2 separate regions of the Homo sapiens genome follow, and region 2 is linked to region 1. Evidence: fine-mapped expression QTL. Tissue or cell type: cerebellum. Region 1 holds a variant in brackets; the other region holds the start of a gene. All regions are shown on one strand. Distances are from middle to middle.

Evidence for each region. PIP is the estimated chance that this variant, and not a neighbour inherited with it, causes the effect.
Region 2: it holds the start of C10orf62, and the variant in region 1 is fine-mapped to the expression of C10orf62 in cerebellum (GTEx, PIP above 0.99).

The regions. Positions count from the first base shown.
Region 1 is chr10:97,607,042-97,615,041 of GRCh38, reverse strand. HOGA1 (4-hydroxy-2-oxoglutarate aldolase 1) reads right to left here. Exons shown (of 7, transcript NM_138413.4): 7 at 2,240-3,532. The coding sequence ends at 3,383. It overlaps MORN4 (MORN repeat containing 4), which reads left to right. Exons shown (of 5, transcript NM_178832.4): 5 at 1-487. Among named protein-coding and RNA genes, the nearest start is that of C10orf62, 21 kb to the right of the region's middle. RefSeq lists enhancers at 2,497-2,716, 7,249-7,748, 7,749-8,000. The variant G/T (reference allele first, on the strand shown) is at 3,455.
Region 2 is chr10:97,585,229-97,593,228 of GRCh38, reverse strand. C10orf62 (chromosome 10 open reading frame 62) reads right to left here and starts at 3,508. Exons shown (of 1, transcript NM_001009997.3): 1 at 2,295-3,508. The coding sequence starts at 3,331. The coding sequence ends at 2,660. All of the region lies in intron 1 of HOGA1 (4-hydroxy-2-oxoglutarate aldolase 1), which reads right to left.

The sequences.
Region 1 (8,000 bases):
TAAACAGTAATCTTATTACTTGTATTTGTGACTAACTCCAGGGAAAAGGGTAGAATATTTAGGCCACTTCAGGCACTACCATGGAGTGAACTGAATTCATACGGATGGCTTGGGCTGACACAGTTTCTTCCCAGTGGACCAATAAATCAGACTCACCCGAACCCCTGGGGTTTTGGTAGAATTGGACCTACTCTAGGACTGTGGGGAACTAAAGGAGCATTTGGCTCACTGTAGCTCTTCTATCATGAGCCTTGACCGTCAGGCCGCAATCAGACCTTACTGATGGGATCTCTGCAGTTTATTACGTAGGCCTCCCGTTACCCTGGTACCCAAATACGTCCCCCACCTCTAGCTCCCTAGCCTCACATTGAATGTCTCTTCAACAGCAGATTGTGGTGGAAGTTATAGCCGTGTGCCTCTATTTATTCTCTGAATTGTACTGTAGAAAAAGGTGTTTATAAAGAATAAAGAAATCACCAGAACTGCCTATACCTAGTTTTCCTGACTTTCTGGCCCTGCGTCTTCATGAATATCAACCCATTTGCTGTTTGTAAAAGTTAATCGGGTTAGCCCTTGGAACTGACCCTGCACACTTTATCAAGTCATCTAATTTTCTCAGCCTCTACAGAGGAGGACGTATGAACTTTTTTTTCTTATTTAAATCAGACAATCTCAGGCTGTCCCAACTAGTAGGTAGCACAGCTGGGTGAGATTTGTAACCGAGCCTTTCTGATTCCAGCTCCCTTTACTGGACCTCTCTCACCCTGAGCATCAGAGTACTTAAGTCCTGAGACTAGTTATGGCCACACCTGCTGGGTTACCTCTGGCAGGTCCACTCCTGCCGGAGTTTCCCTTTTTCTGCAACAGGAGAGTGGTGGAACATTGACCCCCACGCTAACCCTTTTACATGCACGTCCTTGTTGGAGGAAGGTACTATTATTATCCCTGTATTACAGATGAGGCTCAGGGAAGTTAAGCAGTTTCTCCAAGGTCCCATAGACACTAAGGGGCAGATCCCAGAACTTAAACCCAGACCTGTTTAAGCCCAGAGGCTGAGCTCTTACCCAGTGCACTACCCTGCCTGCCTAGCCCTAACTTTTCCCCCAAGTCCTAAACTTGATTCTCCTCTGAGCCTTGCTCCTCTGGAAGTTGCCTGTGAGAGGACCCCAGGCACTAAGCCCCAAGCTGTAGTGCCATTCAGAGCCTGGTTTTGGGTTGAAGATTGAGATCTTTTATTTTCTCTCCTTTAGCCTCTGCCCTAAACAAGTATCTATTTACCTCTCTTTTTAACCTTACACTTTCTTTTAAGGAGTAATTTTTTTACAATGTATCTCCATTTTTCTGCCACTAGTCAAATATTACCACTGAAAAAGGTTAAATATTTTGGAGAAAGCATCCTTTTTTGTTGTTGTTGTTGAGATGGAGTTTTGCTCTTGTGGCACAGGCTGGAGTGCCATGACACGATCTCGGCCCATTGCAACCTCCACCTCCCACGTTCAAGCGATTCTTGTGCCTCAGCCTCCTGAGTAGCTGGGATTACAGGCGTGTGCCACCACGCCCGGCTAATTTTTGTATTTTTAGTAGACATGGGGTTTGCCGTGTTGATCAGGCTGGTCTCAAACTCTTGACCTCATGTGATCCTCCTGCCTCCGCCTCCCAAAGTGCTGCCTGGCCCTAAACACTTAGCACTTTAATCAAAAAGGATGCTGAAGGGGTGCAGTGGCTCACGCCTATAATCCCAGCACTTTGGGAGGCCGAGGCAGGAAGATCACCTGAGGTCAGGAGTTCGAGACCAGCCTGACCAACATGGCGAAACGCTGTCTCTACTAAAAATACAAAAATTAGCCGGGCATGGTGGTGAACACCTGTAATTCCAGCTACTCGGGAGGGTGAGGCAGGGGAGTCACTTGAATCTGGGAGGCAGAGGTTGTAGTGAGCCGAGATCGTGCCACTGCACACCAGCCTGAATGACAGAGCAAGACTCTGTCTCAAAAAAATAAAATAAAAGTGCTAAGTGTTTGTTTCTAAATAGCTCACTTGCTCTCTTTTGCCTCTTACCCCTTCCCCAGGTCTCCAGTAAGTGAATGCCTGTTGGCTCAGTATTGCTGGGGACACTCTTCGAGCTGGGAGAAGGCAGACCATCAGAGCTCTTTTGCCTTTAGAAAGGTTCTTGACATCTGGCCAGGAAACCTAAGATCTGCATAGCAATAGAGTGTCCATCTTTATATAGCCACACTAATTTTTTCTGTTAAATTTTATTATAGTAACAAAGTGACTATTTTTAATAATAAAAGCAGAGTGCCTGTAGGCAAGTGGATGGCCCTATCTCAGGCCAAGTCTCCTTAGTGTTTCAGACCTAGGCTGACCAGAATAGTCTTCTAGAATGTAACATTTATCCACCAGGTGTCATTATTTACCAATCTGACAAGCCACTGGGCTGTCTCCGTGCATTCAATGGTTGGAATCAAGGCTACAGACCAGAATAGGAGATGAATGAAAATAGATTTAGAAAAGGGCGTTGTGGCTGGAATGCAGCTTGCAGTGTGGAGGGCAGGGATGGGAGGGTAAAGAGGGCTCTTTGAAAGACCAGTGTCACTTTCCTGATCAAGTTTCTTAAGCTGATACTTCCCTGGAAGGAGTCAGAACTTGGGTTTGTAGGAGTAGCCCTGGCCTCCAGCTGCATTGTGCTAGACTCAGGTTTGAAGCCCCAAATCTAAGTAGTCCCCCCTTTGATAAATTCCCGGCCGGGTGCAGTGGCTCACAGCTGTAATCCCAGCACTTTGGGAGGCCGAGGCAGTTGGATCACCTGAGGTCAGGAGTTCAAGACCAGCCTGGCCAACACGGTGAAACCCCATCTCTGCTAAAAATACAAAAATTAGCTGGGCGTGGTGGCAGGCGCCTGTAATCCCAGCTACTCGGGAGGCTGAGGCAGGAGAATCGCTTGAACCCAGGAGGCGAGATCATGCCATTGCACTCCAGCCTGGGTGACAGAGTGAAACTCTGTCTCAAAAAAAAAAAAAAAGAAAAGAAAATTCCCTTACTGTGCCTACTTGCCCCTCTGCCCTTCCTTTCTGACTTCATGTGCCTCAGGGCGTAGGAAAGCATCCACAGTAGAAAGATAAATTGAGAAATTGCTCCTTCCCAGTCTTCAGACCAGAGACACAGTTTAGGATCCAAAAGGGAGAGGTCAGGGGCCGTTAGAATAGGAGATATGCATGGGCGTGCCTGTGAAAGGCTGCCTGGAGGACCACAGCAGGCAAAGGAGCCTCTATCGGCTCCCCGCTGCCTGCCACCCTCATCCCCCTGTGCTCTCCGCTTCAGGCTGCAAGTGCAAGGCAGGAGGCTGAGATGGGCTCAGGCCAGCCATGGACCCTGCCTGCCCTCAGAGCCAGCCGTTGCTGGTGAAATCCATGCGCAGTGCCTCCTCCTCAGCGGGGCTCAGCTCCTGCAAGGG[G/T]GCGCGGCAGGGGCCTCCATAGTAGCCAAACCAGTCCATGATTTTCTTCAGCCCTGGGATCCCAAAGCGCCGGGTCACCTGCAAAGCAGGGCCTGTTAGAAGAGACTGAGAAATTTGCTGAACACCCATATCTGGAACTCGGAGATCTGTCACTTTCAGAACATTGAAGTCCTACCCTCTTCCCCCAGGAAAGTAACTGCCAACTCTATGGCACCCAGGGTACATTGGGAATCCAGATTTAGAGACCAGAGAGCAGGTCTGTAATAGCAAAATACAAAAACTTCAGATTGGGGAAGAAGAGTGCCTCCTTTGGTTTTAGGAGAAAAATCCACTCCAACAGAGAGGAGAGTGGTATTTGGTCCTCAAGCTGGGGTGGGAGAAGACAGCAAGGCTGCAGGTCTAGGCACTAGAGCATCAGCAGTCTGCAGCCCAGCTCCCTGAAACCTGACGCAGGTCACACCAGACCTGGGAAGTCAGGAAGGGGAAGGATCTGTGAGAGTCTCAGGCACAGCCCAGACCTCTACTCCCCTTGCATCTGGCTGCCCTCACCTCCCCATAGCTCCTCCTGACCCTAACACTAAATGGTCTCCCAGGAAAAGCAAAGCATCATTTCCCAAGGAAGTTTTGTTGTATAAACTGTATGTCATTTACTTATTATCTCTGAGTAAGTTCTCCTGTCTAAAAAAGGAAGGGGCTGGACAACATGATCTCTAAAGGCTTTTCCCTGATAATGGGGGACCTAAAGCTATTGTTATAATTTATTCATTTATTTTTATTTATTTATTTTTTTGAGACAGTCTTGCTCTGTCACCCAGGCTGGAGTGCAGTGTCCTGATCTCAGCTCATTGCAATCTCTGCCTCCTGGGTTCAAGTGATTCTCCTGCCTCAGCCTCCTGAGTAGCTGAGATTACAGGCACCTGCCACCACACCAAGCTCGTTTTATTTTATTTTATTTTTGTATTTTTAGTAGAGACAGGGCTTCGCCATGTTGGCCAGGCTGGTCTCAAACTCCTGACCTCAAGTGATCTGCCCGCCTCGGCCTCCCAAAGTGCTAGGATTACAGGCATGAGCCACTGCACCCGTAATAATTTATTTATTTTTATTTTATGTTTATGTTTTTGAGACAGGGTCTCACTGTGCCACTCAGGCTAGAGTGCAGTGGTATGATCATGGCTCACTGTAGCCTAGACCTCCTGGGCTCAATCGATTCTCCCACCTCAGCCTCCACAGCACCTTGGACTTCAGGTGCATGACAGCATGCCTGGCTAATTTTTGCATTTTTTGTAGAGACGAGGTCTTGCTATGTTGCTCAGGCTAGTCACAAACTCCTGAGCTCAAGTGATCTGCCCACCTTGGCCTCCCAAAGTCCTGGGATTACAGGCATGAGCCACGGCGCCTGGCCTATTATAATTTAAAATCGTGTATGGAATATTACAGAATAAATGAAGCATCAAATTTCCTTGCTTTTGGTATAGCAACTGGTTATTTCATGCTGATCAGAAATATTAGATGAATCTTTCACTACCTAAAAACTACAAAAGTAGTCCTTAAGAAAGTTTTATTTGGAGAGAAGCTAAAACCTTAGGAGGATAAAAATAAAAGGTTGTTTGGGATAAAAAGGCCAGGAACCACTGATGAAAGATTGACTAATAACTTTACCACTAGAGTCCCGGAGGCTTTATCAAGCATGGATTTTTTTTCTCGGAATGGGTGGTAAGCCACCCTCCTGCAGGCCTCGCCACCCCCATGATGTTCTAATAGCCTGGCCTTTTTACCCAAAGCCTGAGTAGGTGGGAAAGACCCAGGATACAGGATGGAAATAAGAGGTGCCCAGAGAAAAGCTCACTCCTGCCATGGGTTTCCAAAGATATCTGATGTGGCCCCTCTTCAAACCCTAAGAAGGGGTTGGTGGCAAAGACTGTAGAAAGTCCTAAATATAGCCAGGGGCAGGAGGCAGGCTGGTGGGAAGGTGGAGGAAGGACATTGTGTTTGACCAGGGATGGGCAATAGAGTGACATCAAGCTGTTCTCGGGGTGTCTGAGCCTACAGCCTAGGCAGCAGAAAGGTGTTCCAGGCATTCCTGGGTATGTGCCCAGAGCTGGCACAGGAGAGGACACAGAATGAAGGGTGAGGCAGGATGGGGTAGGGCGGGATGACACGCAGAGATCTGGGATGACAGCTAGGCATCCACTCTTCCCCAGGGGCAGCCCAAGCTGCTTCATCTGTGAAATGAGTGATAACAACACCTACCCCATAGAGACGTCCCAAGGGCCAGATGAGAAAAACACTGCTAATATTAGACCAGTTCCCATGAGCCCTGGAAGCCGCTCCGTTTCCTGTCCCGGTGGCATGCGGGTTCTGGGACCTTCGTTTTCAGAGGTGCACTGGGAGTGGGAGAGCAGAGGCCCCACCCCAGTGGAATGTTCAGTATGTGCAGGACGGCCTGTGCCCAACGGGGCCCTCGTTTCTGCAAGTTCTTATAACCTATTTATAGAAGGTCCCATCTCAGAAGCACCTTCACCTCCAGAGGGACTCAGATTTACCTCCTCAGCTGTCGTTTCTGTAAATCTAAGTTAATCTGCCCCTTTGAGGTAAGGATACAGCTGTGAGGGAGCTCTAGAGCCCACCCATCACTTTACCCAAACAAAATATTGTGGAGTGCCTAGCTCAGCCTGGGACTGCAGCCAGGCCCATGAGGCCCTTACCTTGCATGCAAAACTTAAGGGGAGGCCAAAAATCTCAATCATCAAAATAAGTAATATTTCAATGCAATTTTTTTTTTTTGAAACAGTCCCACTCTGTCGCCCAGGCTGGAGTGCAGTGGTACGATCTCGGCTCACTGCAACTTCCGCCTCCTGAGTTCGAGTGATTTCTCCTGCCTCAGTCTCCTGAGTAGCTGGGATTACAGGTGACCAACACCATGCCTGGCTAATTTTTGTATTTTTAATAGAGAGAGGGTTTCACCATGTTGGCCAGGCTGATCTCGAACTCCTGACCTCAGGCGATCTGCCTGCCTCGGCCTCCCAAAGTGCTGGGATTACAGGCGTGAGCCACCGTGCCCAGCCAAAATAAGTAATATTTCAATGCAATATTTTTTAAAAATCAAAATTAATGCAAAAAATATCCACAATGAATGAAACTTTAAATAAAGACAGGATCCAACAGAGCTGTGCCCCACCATATAGAAGGCTCATGCATAAGTAATCATGTGTGCCCCATGTATTTTTTGGTGTATTTTTTCATTTTTATTTATTGTATTTTTTAAATTTCTTTTTTTGAGACAGGGTCTTGCTCTTTTGTCCAGGCTGGAGTGAAGTGGCATGATCGTAGCTCACTGCAGCCTCGACCTCACGGGCTCAAGCAATCTCCCTGCCTCAGCCTCTGAGTAGCTGGGGCTAGAGTTGCACACCCTCATACCTGGCTAATTTTCATTTATTTTTACTAAAGACAAAATCTCACTCTATTGCCCAGGCTGGGCTCAAACTCCTGAGCTCAAATGATCTTCCTGCCTCAGCCTCCCAAATTGCTGGGATTACAGGTGTGAGCCACTGTGCCCTGCTGGTGTCTTTTTAGCGGTTATTCTTTCTCTAGAAGTAGACTTGGAAAAATATGTTTTGATGAGTTTGCTTCCATTAAAGCCAGGAAAATAAAATTATAATAAATCATGTTTTTGGTATATGAAATATTTAAGCCTAAAATAGTGCTGTGAGTTTTAACATACCTACTTCTCAATTTTCAATATTTTTTCACCCACTTTAATGTTCTTAGGGGGAAAAAAATCACCATTTAGAAAAATACTTAGAGCATTTACTTTCAGGAAGATGGAGTAGATGTACTTGTCCCAATTCTTCCCAATAAGTACAACTAAAAGCTCTGGACGTTACATAAAAATATTATCTGGACATTATATAAAAAATTATATATATATCTGGACATTATATAAAAGACATAAGAAGACTCTGGAAGGCAGAGAGAAGGAAGACCAACAAGGGACCTAGAGACCCAAGAAGTAACACAGTGCTACGTACCCTGGCCCAGACTTGGAGCTGAAGAAGTCAGCAAGCACGCAGTGCCAATGGGTACAGACAATACACGCACTAACAGAAGCCAGTTCTCTCTAGCCAGAGGACCAGAAAAGGGGTTGCCTAGCAAGATGGAAAGCTTTCAGACAGTAACTGCTCTACTCCAGCCGAAAACCAGCCAGGCCAGCAAAGACTGAGTGAAGGAGTCTGAACTGCCACCCCCGCTCCCAGCTGGGTGGTGTCAGAGCAGGCCAGGGGGAGGGAAGTCAGGACTTGCACCACTGCTCATCTTCAAAAGGCCACCAGAGCCCACCCCACCTGCTGCCAGACACACAGGCAATGCAGTGGAGGCAGTGTGTAGGGAGCAGCCAGGGGGCTCTTCTACCCTCCAGGCAGCAGGATGTCCATAGATGCCTAGTACAGATCCTAGTGCAGAGGTGTCTTTTTTTTTTTTTTTTTTAAGAGATGGGGTCTGGCCATGTTGCCCAGGTGGGTCTCAAACTCCTGGCCTCAAGCAATACTGC
Region 2 (8,000 bases), 22 kb after region 1:
GCTGGGATTACAGGCGTGAGCCGCCGTGTTCGGCCCCCAATGAACTTTAATGGAATTAAGACTTGATCTGGAAAATTAGCCACCCTCCCAGCCAACTCTCAGGCAAGAGCCTAGAAGCTGTTAACTACTCTTCTTTGTCTTTACGTAGTCTTAACAGTGAGTGATCTGACCATTCTCTTTTTTTTTTTTTTTTTTTTTTGAGACAGAGTCTCACTCTGTCGCCCAGGCTAAAGTGCAGTGGAGCGATCACTGTTCACTGCAACCTCCGCCTCCTGGATTCAAGCAATCCTCCCAACTCAGCCTCCCAAGCAGCTGGGATTAAGGTGGGCACCACCATGCCCAGCTCATTTTTGCATATTTAGTAGAGACGAGGTTTCACGAGGTTGTCCAGGCTGGTCTCACAAACTCCTGACCTCAAGTGATCTGCCCATCTCGGCCTCCCAAAGTGCAGGGATTACAGACAGGAGTCACCACGCCCAGCCTGACCATTCTTTTTTTAATAAAAATATTCTTACCAAGAGTATATATTTGAGTTAGCTGCTTACAGGTCATTTTGCTTGCATTACAACGATAATCAAACTTTGACACACACTCATAATCAAATTGTCTGAAAACTTTTTTTTTAACTTGAAATATTGAATTACTTTTAGATTTACAGAAAAGTTTCAAAAATAGTACAGGGATTTTCTGGCTGGGCACGGTGGCTCCCACCTGTAATCTCAGCACTTTGGGAGGCCGAGGCTGGCGGATCACGAAGTCAGGAGATGGAGAACATCCTGGCTAACACAGTGAAACCCCGTCTCTACTAAAAATGGAAAAAATTAGCCAGGCGTGGTGGCGGGCGCCTGTAGTCCCAGCTACTCGAGAGACTGAGGCAGGAGAATGGCATGAACCCGGGAGGTGAAGCTTGCAATGAGCCGAGATCGCACCACTGCACTCCAGCCTGGGCCACAGAGCAAGACTCCGTCTCAAAAAAAAAAAAAAAAAAGTACAGGGATTTTCTATACATCCTTCACCCAGCCTCCACCAATGATAATGTCTTACCTAGCTATAATATGATGACCAGAACCAAAGAATTAACACTGGTACAATGTCATTAACTAAGGACTTTATTTGAATTTTGCCAGTTTGAGTCTGAGGCTGCAGTGAACTATGATATCACCACTGTAATCCAGCCTGGGCAACATGGCAAAACCCCATCTCTACTAAAAATACAAAAAAAATTTGCCAGGCATGGTGGTGTGTGCCTTTGGCCTTAGCTACTCGGGAGGCTGAGGCATGAGAACCGCATGAACCCGGGAGGCAGAGGTTGCAGTGAGCCAAGATCGCGCCACTGTACTCCAGCCTGGGCAATGAAGCGAGACTCTGTCACACACACACACACACACACACACACACACACACACACACAAAATGAAAGAAAAGAAAAAAAAAAAATTAGCCAGGTGTGGTTCCACACACCTGCAGTCCCAGCTACTTGGGAAGCTGAGGTGGGAGGATCGCTCGAACCCAAGAGGCAGAGGTTGCAGTGAGCCGTGATCACGCCTCTGCACTCCAGCCTAGGCAGCAGGAGTGAAACCCTGTCTCAAAATATACATACATAAAAAACAAGAAAAAAAGGGAAAAGAAAAAAAAGAACCCAAGATGATCAGGTTAAATAGCTAATGCACGCAGGGCTAAATAAATACCTTAGGTGACGTGTTGATAGGTGCAGCAAACCACCATGGCACACGTTTACCTATGTAACAAACCTGAACATCCTGCCCATGTAACTCAGAACTTAAAATTAAATTAAATTAAATTAAATTAAATTAAGTTAAACAAACAAGAAGAAAGTGTTGTGCTCACTCAGTAGCTGTAGACTTAGGTGGTGGGGAGGTACTAACATGGATCCCAAGGGGCCCCAGGAAGCAGGTGGGGCTGGTGAGAGAACTGCCTTGTAGGATGCCACATGACTTGAGAGCAAAGATAGCACCAAGACGACAGGGGCCCTCATTCCCACCTGGCTTAGTTACTCTCCTCTGAAAGCCTGTTTCTCCTCCAAGCCCAATACCTGGCTGCTCCCCTCTTCCCTGGCAACATCAGATTGGGGGTGTTGAGACGTCTAGAGGTACCCCTTTTCCAGAACCTGAGACCAGGGTAGCTGTTTTATGGAGCTTTAAATGAGGCCCAGTGAAAAGGCCCCAGGTCGGGGGCCTTTTCTCCACTCCACTCCAGAGGACTGCTGGAGAGGGAGCCCCCTCCCTCCATCCCTGCCAGACCTTAGGCTGCCCACAGAGCCCCTGGACTCAGAGTGAAGGCACACAAAGCTTTATTGGCTCCGTTCCAGGCAATGACATCAGTGTGGGGCTCTTGCCTGCTCCCATCTGTCTTCTCTTGGTGGGTCTTCAGGGGCCTCAGGGTCTATCTCACCTGCGCTGTGTCCTCCCAGCTCTCCCTCCAACAGGGGCCATCTTCTGTGGCAGACCCCACTCATGGAGTTTAAAGAGCCCATAATCCCCGTGAGGAGCCTAAGAAAGTAGGGATTTGGGCACAGCATCTCACCCTGGCCTGCATAGATGGCCCCATAGGAGAGAAAACAGACGTGTGTGTGAGCCAGCCTTGCTGGGGGCAGGGGCGTCTCCATCCATGGTTAGGTGGCTTCCAAGAAGTCACAGATCTAGTGTCTGCGATTAGGCAGGCTGTGGCTCTGGTGGCTTGGGTGGCCATGGTGACTGTGGTGACTGTGGCCATAGAAGGTGTGTGTGTGATTGGCACCAGCTATGGTGTTTTCCCGCTGGGTGAGGAAATTCTTTTGCAGCTTCATCTCTACCTCCTCGAGGGCCCTCAGCTCCTCCTGGTTGATGTCCTTGGACTCTAGGTGACCTGAGTGCTGGTAAGCTATGGCCCGCTGCAGCATGGAGTGAGCCAGGTGCCGCCCCTGGGTGTCAATCTCCTTGGTGCAGGCAGCCACAGCGGCCCACGTGGCCTCATCAGTGGATGGGGCTTTTCCAGACTCCTGGTGGATCTCTTGGATCACTGAGGGCCCAGATGTCTTCTGCCTGCTGGTGAAGGATTCCCGGTGCAGAGCGGAGCCCACTTCTCCGTGCCTCGTGGTGAAGGTCTCTATGTGAACCGTGGAGCTGACCTCTTCACTCCCACTCTCAGTCTGGGTAGCATTGCCACTAGCGCTGGCATTGTTGTCGAGGGCCAGCTTCTCTTCGGAAAGGCGGCTAAAGTGGGATTTAATCCAGCTTTCATTCTTTGCTTTATGGGATTCTGGTGACTTGTCCTTGTCTGATGGACACTCAGAGGTTTCCTTTCTTCTCCTCTTTCTCTGAACCCACAGCATGAGACCTCCACCTCCTAGCAAGAGGGCAGTCCCCAGCACCACCTTGCATGATGGCTGCTGGATGAGCTCCAAGAAGGTCTCCAGGACCCTACACCAGGCAGGCAGAGCTAAGAGCACGCTGGGTGATCTCTGGTGGTATGATTCATGCTTGAAAGGGCAGGCTCCCCAAGGATGTCTGACAGGCAGGCCCCCTGCTGCACCCTCCCTAGGTGCCCCCCACCACCTCAACAATGAACCCCATTGTGAGGAAGGCAGTTGCGGGTGGGGTGGGGAGAGTGGGGTGGGGAGAGGCCGCAGCATCCCTCATGTCTAGCCTGGCAGGCATTGCCTGAGGCCTGGGTCCTGTCTCCTACCCTGACAGCTGTCCCCAGGCTCAGTGAAAGGGCTGCTTCTCCAATTCTGAGTCCTTCTGCCTTCTGCTTGGAATCCATTCTACAACTTAGGCCTTTGTATCTTCCAGTCTTTGGTTTCTCTCTCTCCCCATCTGGTGGCCCCCAGGGGGCAAAGTATGCTGGGTCAGGCTGGCCATGACAGAATGATCCCCTTGACTGGGCTGGTATCCATTCCTAGCCATCTGAGACCAGTGCACCTCCATCCAGTGCCCATGTCTGCTGCCAGCCTGGCATATTCCATCCTCATTTGCAGCCCCTCGCCTCACTACAGGGCAGAGTTCAGAGGGAAAAGAACCCAGGAAGGAGCTCATTCTGGAGTAACTAACATGAGGTCACAATGGGCTGAGGGTGGAGAGGCAAGCAGTGGGCTGAGAAGGCAGAGTGGACAGGAGACTTCATCGGGTCTAGATCCCTGGGGCCACTCCGGGATGGTAGCTGCTACCTCTTGCCTTAGTGAGGCACCTACAAACCCAGAATTTGCCCCCCCATAAATAGGCATGGTTCGGGTTGTGAGCAGGTGGGCTGGCTGGCCAGGCTTTCCATAGGTGCAGACAACTAAAAGCCTAATTAATCTCCAAGGCCTCTCAGGGTATAAACAGGCCTGGGCCACTGTATTTTTTTTTCCCCTCAAAAGCATCTAGCCCATTTAAAAAAAAATAAGAAATGCCAAAATGGGGTTGTAAACATTGTGATGCTTTAAACAAAATATTTTCTTTAACAGAGTAATGGTTTTAATATATACAAAATATTATATCTTTGCAAGAAAGCATGGTCCACTCTATGTATGGAAGGAATAGGACACAAGTGTTTTATGGAGAACCTCATCTTCCCAGTCCTGCTGGACTAGTTCTGTGGTTGGCTAACCTCATTTGGAAATAACAATTCAAAGTCCATCTTTGAGGGTGTTTATGGGTGTGAGTTCAGGGCCATAGAGCCCTTCTGTAATGACCCCTTCCTCTAGTCTCTGGTCATAATTTTTATTTAAAAAGAATACTCTTGGCTGGGCGCTGTGGCTCACGCCTGTAATCCCAACACTTTGGGAGGCCGAGGCGGACGATCACGAGGTCAGGAGATTGAGACCATCCTGGCTAACACGGTGAAACCCCATCTCTACTAAAAATACACACACACACACAAAAAATTAGCCGTGCATGGTGGTGGGAGCCTGTAGTCCCAGCTACTCAGGAGGCTGAGGCAGGAAAATGGCGTGAACCTGGAAGGCAGAGCTTGCAGTAAGCCGAGATCGTGCCACTGCACTGCAGCCTGGGAGACAGAGCAAGACTCCATCACAAAAAAAAAAAAAAAAGAAAGAAAAAACAAAAAGAATACTCTCTATTCAAATAATCAGTACAAATTAGCAATGCTAAAAAGATTTTTTAAAAAGAGCTACACGGGGCCGGGCATGGTGGCTCATGCCTGTAATCCCAGCATTTTGGGAGGCAGAGGCAGGCAGATCACTTGAGCTCAGGAATTCGAGATCAGCCTGGGCAACACGGCAAAATCCCATCTCTACTAAAAATACAAAAAATTAGCCGGGTATAGTGGTGTGCACCTTTGGTCCCAGCTACTCGGGAGGCTGAGATGGGCAGATTGCTTTAGTCCCAGGAGGCAGAGGTTGCAGTGAGCCGAGATCGTGCCACTGCAGTCCAGCCTGGGTGGCAGACTGAGACCCCATCTTAAAAATAAATAAATAAATAAGAGGCCCAGCGCGGTGGCTCACGCCTGTAATCCCAGCACTTTGGGAGGCCGAGGCCGGCGGACCGTGAGGTCAGGAGTTCAAGACCAGCTTGGCCAACATGGTGAAACCCCATCTCTACTAAAAATACAAAAATTAGCCAGGCGTGGTGGCAGGCACCTGTAATCCCAGCTACTCAGGAGGCTGAGGCATGAGAATCGCTTGAACCCAGGAAGCGGAGGTTTCAGTGAGGCAAATCATGCCACTGCACTCCAGCCTGAGCGACAGAGCAAGACTCTGTCTCAAAAAAAAAAGCTACACAGTTTCAGGGAGTGCTTTCCAGAAGAATCTCTAACTCTTCACTGATTCATCCAGGGCAGCTTTCCACCTCCTATTTATTTGTTTTAATAGAGACAGGGTCTCACTATGTTGGCCAGGCTGGTCTCCAACTCCTGGTCTCAAGAGATCCTCCTGCCTTGGCCTCCCAAAGTGCTGGGATTACAGGAGTAAGCCACTGTGCCTGGCCCTCATCTCCTCTTCAGAGGACCTTTAACTGGCTGCAGGAGGCCCTTACAATGTGATACGTTCCCTCCTCAGCCTGAGTGTTGGGCTGCAAAGTCTACCTCAGGGGCCAGGACAGGGCAAGAGAAACACAGATTTCAGAGCTAAAGTTGTTTGTGTCTTCCTTCCTGGGCATTTTGGCTGCACCCTGGAAGCAGGGAAGGGACCCTCTATCTCTGTGTTTTCTGTGACAGTGCCTTGGGAGGATTATATTGACCCTGTGGCTAGAAGCCTGAAGGCTCAGTTCCTATTCTAAAATGAGGACTGGATTTGAAAGGTTAAGTGGTTTCCCCAAGGTCTCTGTTAACTGGCAGAAGTGGCAGGATTCTTGCCCAGGTCCTCTAACTCAAGATGCTGGGCTCTTCCTACCACACCCCGCTGGCTCTCTGGTGTGTGGGTGAGTGATCAGATGGGAGCTGGAGCCTGCATAGGTTGCGAGGGAGACAGACAAGTGGGTATGTGCAGCCCACAGCCTGCTAAATCCACGGAAGCCTGTGCTCCTGGGCACCCCATGCCCTCTGCAAGAGTGGGTGGGTGGCCCAGAAGGGAGGGTCCAGAGAAGAGTCTGGGGGTCTCTGTGGATTCTCTGGGTGTCAGGCAAACACCAGATGCAAAGTCCACCCTCCCCACCCTGAACTAGAGCATCCTTGAACCTTGAAGCTGAAGTAAGGTCTTCACTTAGAGGCTCAAAATGCTTCTCACTTCAAGAGAACCAGGACCTCACCAAACCTCCAGGCCCCACGAGCCAAGCACCAGCAGAAACCTAACAGTTGTGCCCTGCTCAACGTGGCCCTCCACAGGGCATTCATTGTCCCCAAGGAAGGGGCACATTCCCTCAGTACTGAGCTATGAATGATCAACGTGTCCATCAGGCCAGGGGTCACAGTCACAAAGCAGCTTTGCTGCAATGCCAATCACACTGTCATTTTAATCATTATTACCATTGGAATCAGTACCTTCCAATGTATATTACTCCACAATTTATAGCACGATTTCACTTGCATTCTCTCAGATTTTTTTGTCCAACCATCCCATAATATGAGCATTATCACTCCCATGTGTCCGATAGGGACAGCAATCATCCCACACTAAGTCAGTGCCAGAGATGTGATTTGATTTTTTTTTTTTTTTTTGAGATGGAGTCTTGCTCTGTCGCCCGGGCTAGAGTGCAATGGTATGATCTCAGCTCACTGCAATCTCTGCCTCCCGGGTTCAAGCGATTCTCCTGCCTCAGTCTCCCGAGTAGCTGGGATTACAGGCACACACCACCACGCCCAGCTAATTTTTGCATTTTTAGTAGAGACGGGGTTTCACTATGTTGGCCAGGCTGGTCTTGAACTCCTGACCTCATGATCCCTCCGCCTCGGCCTCCCAAAGTGTTGGGATTACAGGCGCTCACTCCAGAGCTGTGATTTGAAACCAGAGTCCACAGTCTACACGATACTGCCTCAATAGCAGCCACAACAAAGCTAGTGCTGACCAGACACTCCGTTGAAATAGTGTGGCCTAGCAGCTCCAAAGGGTTTATAATGAGAGTCAGCGAGGGAGTAAAATGGAGCATGGGCCATGCAGTCAGACGAGGTGCAAACCTCAGCTCAGCTATGTGTTAGCCGAATGACCTTGGGCAGTGACCATGTCACTCTGAGGCCCAGATTCCCATCTGTGGGATGGTCCTACAGAGAGCACTGCCTCAGGGGATTGTGCAGTAAGGAATGGGGATGGGCGGAGCAGGGCAGGCAGAATTTGACATTTTCTTCTACCTTCATTTATTGTGCCTGGGACTCTGTTACATGTTGATTGTTGCAAATATCATCTGGTCCCTAACCTCAGAGTTGGGGAGACCCATGTGTAAAGAGAGATGGGGTCACAGGAGCCACAACAGGAGTCACAGGAGCCAAGGGGTCACAGGAGAACTAATTCTGGCAAGGAGGCTTTGTCCAGAAGAGAATGTACAAACAAACTTTGGAGGGAACTGGGACTGTGGCTGGGCTGCCACGTGACCCCAGCCACATGCCTTCACATCTGCACCAAGTGACAAGGT